Linked DNA regions of Homo sapiens: regions 2 and 3 are each reported to be linked to region 1. The links are microRNA targets in miRTarBase. Many come from high-throughput screens and were not tested one by one. Region 1 holds a microRNA gene; each other region holds the end of a gene's coding sequence.
The links. The annotated mature microRNA hsa-miR-3074-5p reads GUUCCUGCUGAACUGAGCCAG and lies in region 1 at 1,599-1,619, opposite strand. An mRNA with a match to its seed (bases 2 to 7 or 8) in the 3' UTR can be bound and repressed. Matches are read on the target gene's strand: a 7mer-m8 pairs with bases 2 to 8, a 7mer-A1 pairs with bases 2 to 7 and ends in A, and an 8mer does both.

Region 1 (4,561 bases):
CACAGACTGTGCACTTACCTCACTGCCGGCCTCATAATAGTAATCAGTGTAAATGGTGTTTCTCTTTCGTTTTGTTATTTCGTGGCGTACGTGTTAAAGTGTGTGAAACTACAAGGCCAGCTAGTCCTTTCATCATTCCCTTTGGTGCAGGTTTTGGAGCAGCACCACAGGGCACACCCCTCGCCACTCTTTATGGGGAATTTTTGCCCAGGCAGGCAAAGGAGTCATCTTGGTCACAAGTCTCCCTTTTCCCCCTCCCCAGCATCTTCGATCCTGTCCCCACCCCTCCAGATGCATCCAGGGGTTGCAAGCCTGCCCCCCAACCAGTCCCCGTGAGGAACAGTGGCCGGGATTGTCCCAGGGCCCCTTCCAGCAGGGGGACCTCCTGACTTGAGAGTCCCCAAAGCCTTCCCAGGGCAGCTAGAATCTGCCTGGAGAGAAGGGATCTTGTCCCCAAGGGTTAGAGGCAGTAAACTAATAGCAAGGACAGCTGCCTTTAGCAATTGTGTGTGTCGCATGGCCGGTCCCTGCATTTTTCTTCAGTTCCAAAGCTGCACTGGCATTTTTATGGTCATCTCTGGAGTCCCTTTGATTCAAGAAATTATACCTCTAGGATGCCAACTAAACGAACAACAAACAGAAACTCCACCTGTTTGCTAGCATAACAGGCGTGAAGGCGGCAGTGTCGCCGGCGTCCTTCCGCGGAAGCCCAGTGTGTGCAGACAGCACGGGGTGGCGCTGCTCTCAGGTGCTCTGGCTGCTTGGGTTCCTGGCATGCTGATTTGTGACTTAAGATTAAAATCACATTGCCAGGGATTACCACGCAACCACGACCTTGGCTGCTCCTCCAGAAACCGTGGTCGCGCTCACTGCAGATTGGAGAACAGGTGCATCTCGTAGCTCTTCTTTGGAAACAAAAGAAGCCACCAGCTGAGGAAGATGCTCACCGGTCACCGTCCCTTTATTTATGCCCAGCGATGACCTCTCTAACAAGGTGCAGAGCTTAGCTGATTGGTGAACAGTGATTGGTTTCCGCTTTGTTCACAGTGGCTAAGTTCTGCACCTGAAGAGAAGGTGAGATGGGGACAGTTAAGTTGGAGCCGCTGGGGCAGAGGCCGTTGCTGACGGGCCGGCCGCTGCTGCACAGTCAGCTTGGGTGCGGAGCGCGATCCTGGAGGATGAGAGACCACTTGACCCCAAGGATGCACTGTCTCCTGCTGGGAATGCTAGCCATGTACTGAGTCCTTAAGTCTGTCCACAGAAACATGCACTAATCGGACATCTGTCTGAAAGGTCAAATGTATTGAAAGTTGCAAAAATTCTTCTTACAAAAAACTAAAACCAAATGCATCACCTAAGTCGTGTGAAATCATGTGGTAGCTCATGGCTGTGAGCGGGGCGGGGCGGGGCTTTCGGAGGAGCTCCTGTTGTTCTGGGCGCGGTGAACTCTCTCTTGTATTTGCAGTCCAGGCCTTCGCGTCTCCTGCGCCAGCAGACGGTGCCCACGGAGCTCCCAGCTGAGGCGCTGCTTCTCCGGGCTGTCGATTGGACCCGCCCTCCGGTGCCTACTGAGCTGATATCAGTTCTCATTTTACACACTGGCTCAGTTCAGCAGGAACAGGAGTCGAGCCCTTGAGCAAAAAGCCTTCGTGTCTGTAAGTGCCCGAGGCTCAGGAGAGCTGGGGCTCCCACTCGCGGCAGACAGGCCCGCGTCCACCCTGCGTCCACCCCGGCCCGGCGGCAGCACGGTGCCAGTCATCTGCATGTGCTCCTGCGGCGTGGGGGTTTGTAGACTTGGAAAACCCTGTTGGCAGAAAGTTAAGAGCTCCCAGGCCTGAAGGCAGGACACAGTGCCAGCAGGGGGCCGTTTGCCCCCATGTGTAAGGGAGGCAGGGCCCAGCTCTCCCACGGCGAGGTGAGCTGAGACTTTCTGAGAACAGTTAGAGTGGGTGCGTGTCTGAAATGGGTACTCCTAGCAGCTATTGTGTACGCAAAGCCTGAGTACAGCCTGCTGGTGTCATGGCCACGTGTGAGCAGGCCAGCGTCACACGGCTCGCTGTGACCCGTCCCGGAGACTGAAATGGGCCTGGGTCTTCTCCTTGTCCTGTGATTAAAGTCCTCTCTTGAAAGTGGAGAGCAAAGGCACACAGAGGTGCGCGCTCACAAGAATTCCTCCCGGTGACTGGGTAATCAATGTTACTGCTGTTTCCTTTGCAGGAAAGACCACAGCAAGATTCTTTCATTCGTCTCCTCCTAGCCTGGGGGACCAGGCTCGAACTGACCCTGGACATCAAAGGAGGGATTATGTGGCTGCTAAAGCCATCGGCCCACAGCCCTGTTCACATCTTGGTGCTTCTCTTTCCCAGAGGCTGGTCCCAGCCAGGCACACACAAAAGGCAGATTCTCGTAAACGCAGCCTCCCTCCCTGGAGGCTGCCTCCTGCCCTGGATCTGGAGTGGAGCTGCTCTGAGATTTTGAGTTCTTCTGCAGAGATGATTAAATATATCCAAGAGACATTGGAAAACCTGCTGAACATTTTACATTGGTCTGCTCAGCACATGGCTGGATGCGGATATTTCTATAATTCCAGAAAGTCACACAGCTCCTCTGTATGAGACCAGTGGGCGCCATTTAAAAGAACAGGATGAGAATCTAAGATATATTATTAATAAATGTAATGGATTTTTTTTTTGTATACGTGTTTGCTTCTAAATTTCATACTGTTTAAAAATAATAAAGGCCAGGTGCGGTGGCTCATGCCTATAATCCCAGCACTTTGGGAGGCCGAGGTGGGTGGATCACGAGGTCAGGAGATCGAGACCATCCTGGCTAACATGGTGAAACCCTGTCTCTACTAAAATACAAAAAATTAGGCGGGCGTGGTGGTGGGCACCTGTAATCCCAGCTACTCGGGAGACTGAGGCAGGAGAATCGCTTGAACCCAGGAGGTGGCAGTTGCAGTGAGCCGAGATTGCGCCACTGCACTCCAGCCTGGGCGACAGAGCAAGACTCCATCTCAAAAAAAAAAAAAAAAAAAAAAAAAAAGCACGTACAAGAAAAAGGTATTCTCCACATTCTGGTGTTCCCCCCCCACCTCACTAGTTTCTTTGTTGTTTTCAAGGTAGTGTTAGTTCTCTTAGAAGCCTGAAAACAAAAGTAATTTGGCTGCGCGTGGGGCACCCTCTTCCGATAAAATGGAGAGCCTGGGCATATTCAGGCATCGTGGGAGTCTGGTGGTATGATTTTTCTTTCTCCACAAGGTTTAGGGTATAGACAGAAGCTGGGCACTGAGCTTCCTTGGCACTGTCCATGGGGCAGAATGTTTGAAAATGCCTGGAGAAGGCTGTAGGAACGGGTGCAGCCATGGGCCCTGTGCCAAGTTGGGCTGAGCATGAGTGCACCTGAACACACCCACAGTCTCCTCTGCCTGGCTCCAGGGGGCAGCACAAATTCTGGCCTGTTTGGGGTGAAGTGGGGCTCTACCATGGATCTCATTAGAAGCTCTGGACTGGGAGGCCTTGGTCTCCAGAACTCTCTTTTCTTGTCCCAGTGACTGATTCCAGAACGTTCTTAGGATTTGCTCTCTGCTGTCACATGCCTTTGCGTGGGACTGTATAGCTGGCTGTGCCATCGTGGAGGATGGCTCAGAACTTGACTGTTATGTTTGAATAAATACACGACCGCGGCTTCCTGTGGAGATTTAGAATGAACGATGCTTTCTCTCTGTGTGCTGCTGCCTTTTTTTTTTCCTTCCTTTCTTTTTTTTGACAGTTTCACTCTTGTTGCGCAGGCTGGAATGCAATGGCACGATCTCTGTACACTGCAACCTCCGCCTCCCGGGTTCAAGCGATTCTCCTGCCCCAGCCTCCCGAGTAGCTGGGATTACAGGCTCCCGCCACCATGCCCAGCTAATTTTGTATTTTTAGTGGAGATGGGGTTTCACCACGTTGGTCAGGCTGGTCTCGAACTCCCGACCTCACGTGATCCACCTGCCTCGGCCTCCCAAAGTGCCGGGATTATAGGCGTGAACCACTGTACCCGGCCTCTCTCTCTCTCTCTCTCTGCGCTTTCTAAGTGTGTTTGGCTTTCACTGAGGCAGAGCCAGGAAGGACCGTGGGAGTACCGGCCGCACTGCCCTGCGAGGCTCCCACTCCCACTGTGTGCAGATGCTTGGCACCTGGAGCTCTCAAGAGCTGCGGGTGGCTCACCGGCCCAGTGGTTTGGGGTGACCTTGCTTTTCCAAAAAGTGAAAGCCATGCTTTATCTTCTTTAGAAACCACTAAAGCAAAGCTGAACTGCTGAATAGGTGGGGTTCTGCACAAAGACCACTAATCCCCTGGCTCCTGTGAGTCACCGGGTCTTGTGACTTGCTTTGACCACCGGGGATCTGGCCAGTGGGTGGCATAAATTTGGTGGACCTCATCAGAACCGGACATTGCTGTCACGGATTTGACTGAGGTCCTGCCAGGAGTCGGCCTTTGCTGCCTCCAGACCTGGGGGCACCCTGCCCGTGCTGGGGCTGCCCCTGGAGGTGAGGGAGGGAGGAAGCCGGAGAGCAGCT
Region 2 (4,000 bases), not on the chromosome of region 1:
TGAACTGAGCAAAACATTCACAGTCTGGGTTTGGAAATAGCAGTGGCAAAACAGAAGCCACAGGATGGCTTCCATGTGGGGCCGTTCCCAATACAGAGAAAGCCAGTGCCACGAACTCAGCAGGACTTGGGGTGGCCCTGTTCACGTGCCCCATCTTGCTGTTGCAGGTGCGTCCTGGGAAACACTACCATCCTGGCCGAGTTCGCTGGTGAAGAAGAAGTGAATCGCTTCTTAGCCCAAGGCCAGGCGCTGCCACCCACTTCCAGCTGGCAGTCCAGCAGCGCGTCCAGCCAGCCGCGGCTCAGCGCAGCGGGCAGCTCCCATGGCCTGGTACGCAGCGACGCTGGCCACTGGAACGCCCCGTGCCTGGGTGGCAAGGGGAGCAGTGAGCTGCTGTGGGGCGGGGTGCCCCAGTACTCCAGCAGCCTGTGGGGCCCGCCCAGCGCCGACGACAGCAGGGTGATAGGCAGCCCCACGCCGCTAACCACCCTGCTGCCTGGGGACCTGCTCAGCGGGGAGTCCCTGTAGGCTCTGCCATCATCAGCACCAGGAGAGCCGACCCCTCCCGGGACCCCTCCCGGCTGGGCGGCCCCACAGACCCGCTGGAACCCAGCAGCGGCCGCCCTTTTGAGTACCTCTGTCCAGGACTGAAGACGAACCTTGGCCGCAGTCCTTGCGAACTGTTCGCAAAACAGTGCGGGCTGCGGTGGGTCAGCGTCACATGCTAATGACAGGATGTTCCTCGTAGCTTTTTATTTTGTGCGTCTTATGTTTGTATAGTGTGTTGTCATTTTGATTTTTTTTTTTTTTTTAAGTATAAAAGCTGCTTAGAATAGTTCTATCATGAAGGGCACTTTTCAGATTGTGGGCTGGAAAGGGTTATTTTATCTGTGGGGGAGGGAGGGAGACGTGAAGCCTATTTAAAATGAGCCTGTGACGATTATGCACATGACCAGAGGCGGCCGGTAATCAGGGCAGAGTCTGGTGTGGACCGCCGGGCGCAGAGCGGCTCCGCGGCGGGAGCTGAGCGGAAGGCGCGGGCTGCGATCTGCTCTCTGTTCCCCTGGATCCGCCTATGCACATTACCCTTGTTTCATTACTTTTTCATGTCATTTTTTTATCCCAAAAAATATTTTTTAAAAGTTAAAAAAAGACATATCAAACATGCAAATACTTGAATCCAGCAGGCCAATAGTGAAATGTGAACACTTTCTAATTCTACACTTCCAGGTTGACATCAGTACACAGAAACAGGCTCTAGGAAAAATTTCTAAGTTCATAGCCTACGTGTGTGTATGTGTGCGTGTTGAAACAGAAGTGTGTGTGTGTGTGCATGTGTGGCGCGTGCTCCTGCACGGCGTGCAGTTTTCTGTGTTTGTGTGTTTGAAAGCGTGTGAGGATTTAACTGTGGGTTTTCCCTTGTATTCAGTATACGCTTTTTTTTTGGCGCATTGGTCAAACGGTTGTTATTATTAGCTTCTAACTTTGCACTGAGTGTCCTCGCCCTTCCTTTAGCTAATCCTATACATTACAGAGAATTCCTAGGACAGGGCTGGCGACAATTCATGTGTAAATGTTTACTCAAGGACTCTGTGACTGCGTTTAAAAAGTACAGTGTATATCTCTGGAGAAATAACATGTATACCTACCTTTAGCAGCTTTTTATTGTGGACTAATGCAAGAAAATTATTACCAGAGTATTGCACCATTTTTCCATTTGGAATATAAAGTTAAAGAGAAAAAAAAAAAAAACTGTTGTTGAACTGTGGCCATAGATACTTGTAAAGAATGGATGGTTCCGTGGAAGGAACAGAAACAAGCACTTGGGCGTGGGTTGTGACTGCTTTTGGGGGAGCCTGGGGTTTGGGCTCCCACCTGTTTACAGACCTTTTTTTCTCCTTCAGACTTTAAAATTTTAAAAATTTAAAAAGGAATTAAAAAAAAAAAAAGACTTCCGTCGTAAAGAAACCTATTTTCAGAATGCAGATGCGTTCCTTCAGAGCTCTGGGACGGGACAGTGTTGTTCCCTCGGCCATCGTCGTGGACTCTGTCGATTGCTTTCGCCCCTTCGTCAAGGTGACAGGCGTTGTGGCCACTGTCTTGCACATGCCGGACGCGCTCTCAGGAAAGCCAGGGCTCCCGAGGGCAGCTCCACACCATTTCATGTATTTTTAAACCCAACTCCTAGCACTGAAGATGTTATTTAAAAAAAAAAAAAACAAAACAAAACAAAAAAATGAAAAAAAAGAAAAAGAGGAAAAAAAAACACAAAGAAGAAAAATACCTAATCTCTAATGTGTAGCAGTTACATATTTACCAAATAATGGACTCAAAAGAAATAGATGTTTGAAGAGTGCTTTATATATTAAAAATTGCTTTATGTTTTAAAAATGATCAATGTTTTGATTGTTTTGCAAGGAAGAAAGACAATGGAATAACATACCTTCAAGTATGTTTTAAAAAATATATATATGAACATTGTGCTCCCTGCCTGCTTGATCAGGAAACTTGTGCATTACATTTTTTTAATTAGCTTTTTAATGGTTTTATCAAAACAAAAAAAATACAAAAAAAAAAAAAAAAGTCCTGCAAGACTGCAGATCCACAAAAGCTGGTTTTATAGAGGATCATGAACTATGCACAAACTGGGTTCAAGACTTTTTTTCTCAAGTTTAGTAGGATATTTAGAAAAACCAACCTTCCTCAGAGTGACTGCATCTCATTGCCATTACATGCGTTCTATATATTCGATGGACATACACCTGCGTATGTATATCCAATATGTGTGCGTGTGAGCATGCGTGTGCGTATGTGCGTCCGACATACCACTTCCCGTGCTGCCGGCGAGCATTGAGTTGTAGAAAAACTGTTGTTTTAAAATTGGGGATGGAAGTCAAGAATATGTTTGTTTGTTTTTGGGTTTTGTTGGGTTTGAGGGGTTTTTTGTTTGTTTGTTTTTTGTTTTTTTTACCTTTTATTTTGAACTTAATATGTCTGTAACTCTGAGATTAAACAACAAGTTCGTGGCTCTTAATGTTTTCCTCATAGAATGTGACTGTTGAAGAACATGCATCGAAAGTTGCTTTCGAAAGTACAACGCTTTATTGAATCTTAATAAATTGCAATTTTTTTCTTGGCTGTTCAAAGTAATGTGTTTTTCATTTTTCAAAAGACACTATGGATGTCTACTTTGCACGCTGCGATTGGGAGAGCTGTCCCGCTGCATGCGTTCCCTCTGTAATTTCCTCAGAGCTCACATACGTACCTCTCTCACGAGTGAACTCAGATTTTCCATTGTTTTGCTTTATTCTATCATTTGCTTTGTGGTTTTGCTGTAAATATTGAAATCTTAATCATCATCGAGAGGCACAGCCAAGCTTTCCAGCTCTCCACCCCCGTGGCCCATCCAAGTCTGTTCATCTGGTAACTTCTGTTGTCTGGGACGGCAGCAAGAAGATGCCGGGGCTTGCCTGGAGTCCTGGCAGAGGAGTGCCACTCACTTTTGCCTAGGGTCCAGTTGGGGCTTAAAAAATATTTGGAGAGAAGAGTAATGAGGATTTTTTGTGTTTCCTAGACATTTTATGCATCTATTTTTGTAAAATCACCTTCGCTAACTTTCACCAAGCACTTTGAGCACAGTGGAACTTCAGAAGCACAACCAGCCTAACCCCAGAATCTCAGGTGGCACAGCTAGAAATTGAGTCCCTTCCTAGGACACTGGCCGTGGCCTTCAGGGTGACCAGTCAGTGCCACCGGGTTGGCATTGGTGTTACAGACAGGCCTCTGAAGACAAACCGAGCACCCCAGCGGCCCCTCAAACTAAGCAAGGATCTTTTTTCTGTCTGCGCTCCCTGGGGCAAGGTCAAAGGTGGACCCGCCCACTGTGGGTCAATTCCTTCGAAAAGATGGGACCCGCACCCCCGCCACAGGCTGGCCCCCCCCCACCCATGGGGAAGGTGGTGTGCTGCTGGCTCTGACCATACTCTTTTGGAAATTGAGA
Region 3 (4,000 bases), not on the chromosome of region 1:
TGTTTCAGTGCTATCTTCACTCATTAAGCATTTTTTCCTTCTTTTGGATGTCTGTCTTAAGTACCTATGTATACAAAAGCCATTACTTTTTTTTTTTTTTTTACAATGCCTAGCAGAATGTCTTATATGTCAATAAATATTTGCCTTGTTAGAAGTAATTTGTGCTTTGTTATAAGTAATTAAAAACAAGCTTTTATGCACTCTTTTTAAATTCACTTAAGCTACACCGTAGTATCCTCAAAAAAGGCTTTGAAATTAAGATTACTGTCCACATATTGGATTAGTTATTGATGAATAAGCAAATCAGCCCCTTTCAAAAGAGATCAGTTAGTCCTATTCTACGTGGTTTCTAGTGAAATAGTCCAGCAAAATCATATAATACTGTGTCAAACTTTTTCTGCTCTTCTTTTTTTAAAAACCAAACAACAGACCTTCATTCTAGGGAACAGCAGTTCTACATCTTTTACCCCCTCGGTGAGGTAAAAGTGTCAATAGAGAAGTTACTACTATATTCCCCTCCCAAATTTTTAGAAGGAACAGTAAAAATAAGGTTTTGATGAAATTCCAATAAAATATTTAACTCATTATTGTCTCATGTCAGAAACAAAAATAAGGCCATTTTCATGTTATAAACATGAATATAATAACCTTCCCTTTGTCCAAAATAGCCAGATTGCTACGTTCTCCTCTTTCCACCTTTCTAACGAGGTTATCCAGTATTTATTTATCCTAACAAACAGTGACCTTCCAATATGTTCTCTAATATTAGGTCATGTTGAACCTAATTTCCTCTCTCTCATATATATGGGTGTGTGTGTGTGTGTGTGTATATATATATATGCATGCATATATGCTGTAAAATCTAATTAATTTATGAATAAAATGTATTTTTCATAACATTCTATAATTTTGATTTGCTAATTTAATTCTTATAGGTAGGATGATACTAATCTTTTCTGAATTAATGACATTTTACAATACCTTAAATATAGCTTTAGTAGGTATTCTATCCCACATTTCAAAATTAATAGGTGTTGCACACATTTCATAAGAGGGTTAGCTGAATTTTTCAAGTAACCACAATAGAGTCTTTCTTAACTATTTTGGACAAATGGAGTTTATTTTATTCAAAGAGATCAACTTTAGGATTATCTGGAAGACCCCTGATTATATATATTGACAATCACAGTTTTAAAGTAACAATATTATTTTTTCTTCCTCTTTAATAAAACAGATAAAATGGACTTTGTTTTTATGGTTTTCTTTGTTTAAATCCTTGCTTTAAAGTAAAATTTTCATCTTCCTGACTACCTGTTCTCTTTGAAATGATTTACATTTCCTAATATAGTGAATATTGAATGAGGAATTAGCGCTTACTGCATTTAGTTCTTATTGAAATACATACAAATATTTTCATTTTGGGGACAATGACATCCTAACCTGATGTCTTTTGTAATCTTTGCAAATACTCTAATGAACAGCAGGGGGAGTTCATACTCCAGTATGAAGGTAAAAATACCTTCTAATCCAAAACACTTTTACAGGAACACAGCTGTTTAAGATAAAATAGCATGTTAGTTATATTATTTTTCAAATATCCTGAAAAGCTAGTGTCCTCTCTCACAAAGGTTGTTGCAATAATGTTGCCTGAAAATGGTATTGCTTTTTAATGGCACCTTTTGAGTTTTCTTTTCATTTGCAAGAAGTCTGCTGAGTTAGTTAAATATTGTTCCACTGTGCCATTCCCAGGGCTACATCTGTAGAAAATACAGCTACTTCTGATACAGTGGGAAATGTAATGACTGTAAATTCTCACCTTTGAAAAATGAATGAAAACGAAAGATGACACCATGGAGAGCTAGCATTAAAAAACATCCAGACCAGGGGTCAGCAAAATATGACCTGCAAAGGTGGCCTACTGGCTGTTTTTGTAAGGGAAGTTATATAGGAAAACAGTTATGTTCATTCTTTTATTTACTAAGATTGCATTAGCAGAATGGCAAAGTTGAGAAGTTGCAACATAGACCTTGTGGAAAATATTTTCTATATAGTCCTTTACAGAAAAAGTTTGCCACTCTTGCTCTAGATATGCAATGAAGTCTTGGATAAGATATTTATTCTTCTCTTTTAAAATTTTAGTTTTGAAATCATACATTGAAGAGAGAGATTGCTTCAAATTTTGCCAGTGAGAAAGGCAAAAGACTATGGATTTTGAAATAACTGCCTGCAAGACAGACATTCAATCTGAAACTGGGAAATCAGAGAGAAAGAAAAATCAACATATAATTTTGATTTCCTTTAGTTACAAAGGTCATTGATACATTATTTATTTTCTCCATCTGCTCAAAATTAAAAAGACATCCAGTTCCTTTTTCTTTTTTTTTCTTAACAAAGATAACAAATATAAAAATCTAGTCATAAACAGCCTTCAAAGAACAATTACAAACCAACTAGAGGAATCCACCTTTTAGAGGGTTAAGGGGTTAGGGACTTCAACACTTAAATTACCGCCATGTTGTCAATTTCACAATGGCTGCAGTGATGAGGAAGTGTGTGTACAGCAGGTGTAATAGCTGATTTCATCTTGCTGCCATCCAAACTGAACTTTACTCTCTTCAGGATACAAGAACTTGCAAATGTCTTCATGCCACTCTTGGCACAGATGTCTTCATCCCACATGAAAAGAGGCAGTTTCTATGGCAATACTGGTTAAGCGCCTATCGTGCTGCACTAATATAGTGCAAAAATGTGCCTTCCATATAGCAAAAAAGATGCAGGCAACCAGTTTGAAAATCAGGGAAAGTAGAAACGTATTGTATTAACACAAGTAAATTAGTTTTCCAGACAATTACCACTATAAAATACTGAACTTGAGGACTCGTTCTTCTAAGACACTAGTACTTGTCCAGCATTCTTACTTTGGAGAGAGACAAGAAGTCTTAAAAAAGAGGCTTTGTCTCTGAAATGCAGGTCAATAAAATCTACCATCGACCACCAAGATGCTGAATTTATTCAGTGGATTTTCTGCTTAGCTTAGAGTTTATTTGTTATGCATTGTTAAAATTGCTTATTAGCAAGTACATAATCTGACATAATGTGTGTCATTCAACTGAGTACACATGTTAATTTGACCATAGTATTGTGGAGATCTTGGTAGAAACTCTTCATGCTAGGAAGTTTTATGGATTAACACTGCAGACGGTCTTGTATCAGGCATCCTAACTGGCCAATTCCACCATTATTTTTTAGAGATGAAAGTGGTTTTTCAGTCGGTAGATTTCAGAAAAGATGACATAAAACTTTCAGAATGCAGCATGTATTCAGCTAAATCTCCTATAATTCTCACGGTTGATGGTCTGTATATAAGTGGTACTGTCTTAAATATCTCCAGTGGCAGTATGATTTTCACTCTTGTCTTTATGATGCCATTTTTAAAAATTAAAATATATTTTAATCCACACAGTTTGGATACATTTGTTGTGGCCTCTGGACATCTATGAAGTCAGAAAGCCGAAACTGGTTGTTGCCAGGAAAAGTTATATGTTACATGTCGGCATCTCCATCATAGGCTAAGGTTAAAGGTTTCAGTCGGTTGTTTTGCCTTCTTTGGGGTTTCTTTGGCTTTTTGCTGTAAAAAAATTCGGAATTAGGAGAAAGAAAATCAGTTTCTAATTGTAAATTTGATTGCTTTAAGCGAAAAAAAAGTAAAAGCAAATTGATAAACTGAAATTGCCTCGTTGCCTGCGTTGCCTAAAGTCTATCTACCTTAGAATTTGATTTTCTGATCTTGAATTTCAGTTTTATGCTTTGAATAAACTCTAAGTAAACTTCAAGTGTTTCACTACCCTACAAAAGATAAATTATCCAAGTGGGATTCTTTTAGTATTAACAACAGAAATAAAATCATAGTAGGGTCATTTTCATTTGGCCAGAAACCTTTATAAATAATGCATAATTTATAAATTATACATGTTTTAGAAGATACTTGAATATGATTAGG

Region 2: the mRNA of TNRC6C is a reported target of hsa-miR-3074-5p. Seed matches in the 3' UTR shown: 7mer-A1 at 2,123-2,129 and 7mer-A1 at 2,501-2,507.
Region 3: the mRNA of THSD7A is a reported target of hsa-miR-3074-5p. The part of its 3' UTR that is shown has no 7-base or 8-base seed match.

Annotation. Positions count from the first base shown.
Region 1 is chr9:95,084,465-95,089,025 of GRCh38, forward strand. MIR3074 (microRNA 3074) reads right to left here and starts at 1,630; the gene lies at 1,550-1,630. It overlaps AOPEP (aminopeptidase O (putative)), which reads left to right. Exons shown (of 17, transcript NM_001193329.3): 17 at 2,218-2,695. MIR23B (microRNA 23b) reads left to right here and starts at 744; the gene lies at 744-840. MIR27B (microRNA 27b) reads left to right here and starts at 981; the gene lies at 981-1,077. It also overlaps MIR24-1.
Region 2 is chr17:78,104,318-78,108,317 of GRCh38, forward strand. TNRC6C (trinucleotide repeat containing adaptor 6C) reads left to right here. Exons shown (of 23, transcript NM_001142640.2): 23 at 168-4,000. The coding sequence ends at 528. TMC6 (transmembrane channel like 6) reads right to left here. Exons shown (of 20, transcript NM_001127198.5): 20 at 3,080-4,000. Among named protein-coding and RNA genes, the nearest start is that of TMC6, 22 kb to the right of the region's middle.
Region 3 is chr7:11,372,251-11,376,250 of GRCh38, forward strand. It overlaps THSD7A (thrombospondin type 1 domain containing 7A), which reads right to left. Exons shown (of 28, transcript NM_015204.3): 28 at 1-3,628. The coding sequence ends at 3,544. Among named protein-coding and RNA genes, the nearest start is that of PHF14, 400 kb to the left of the region's middle.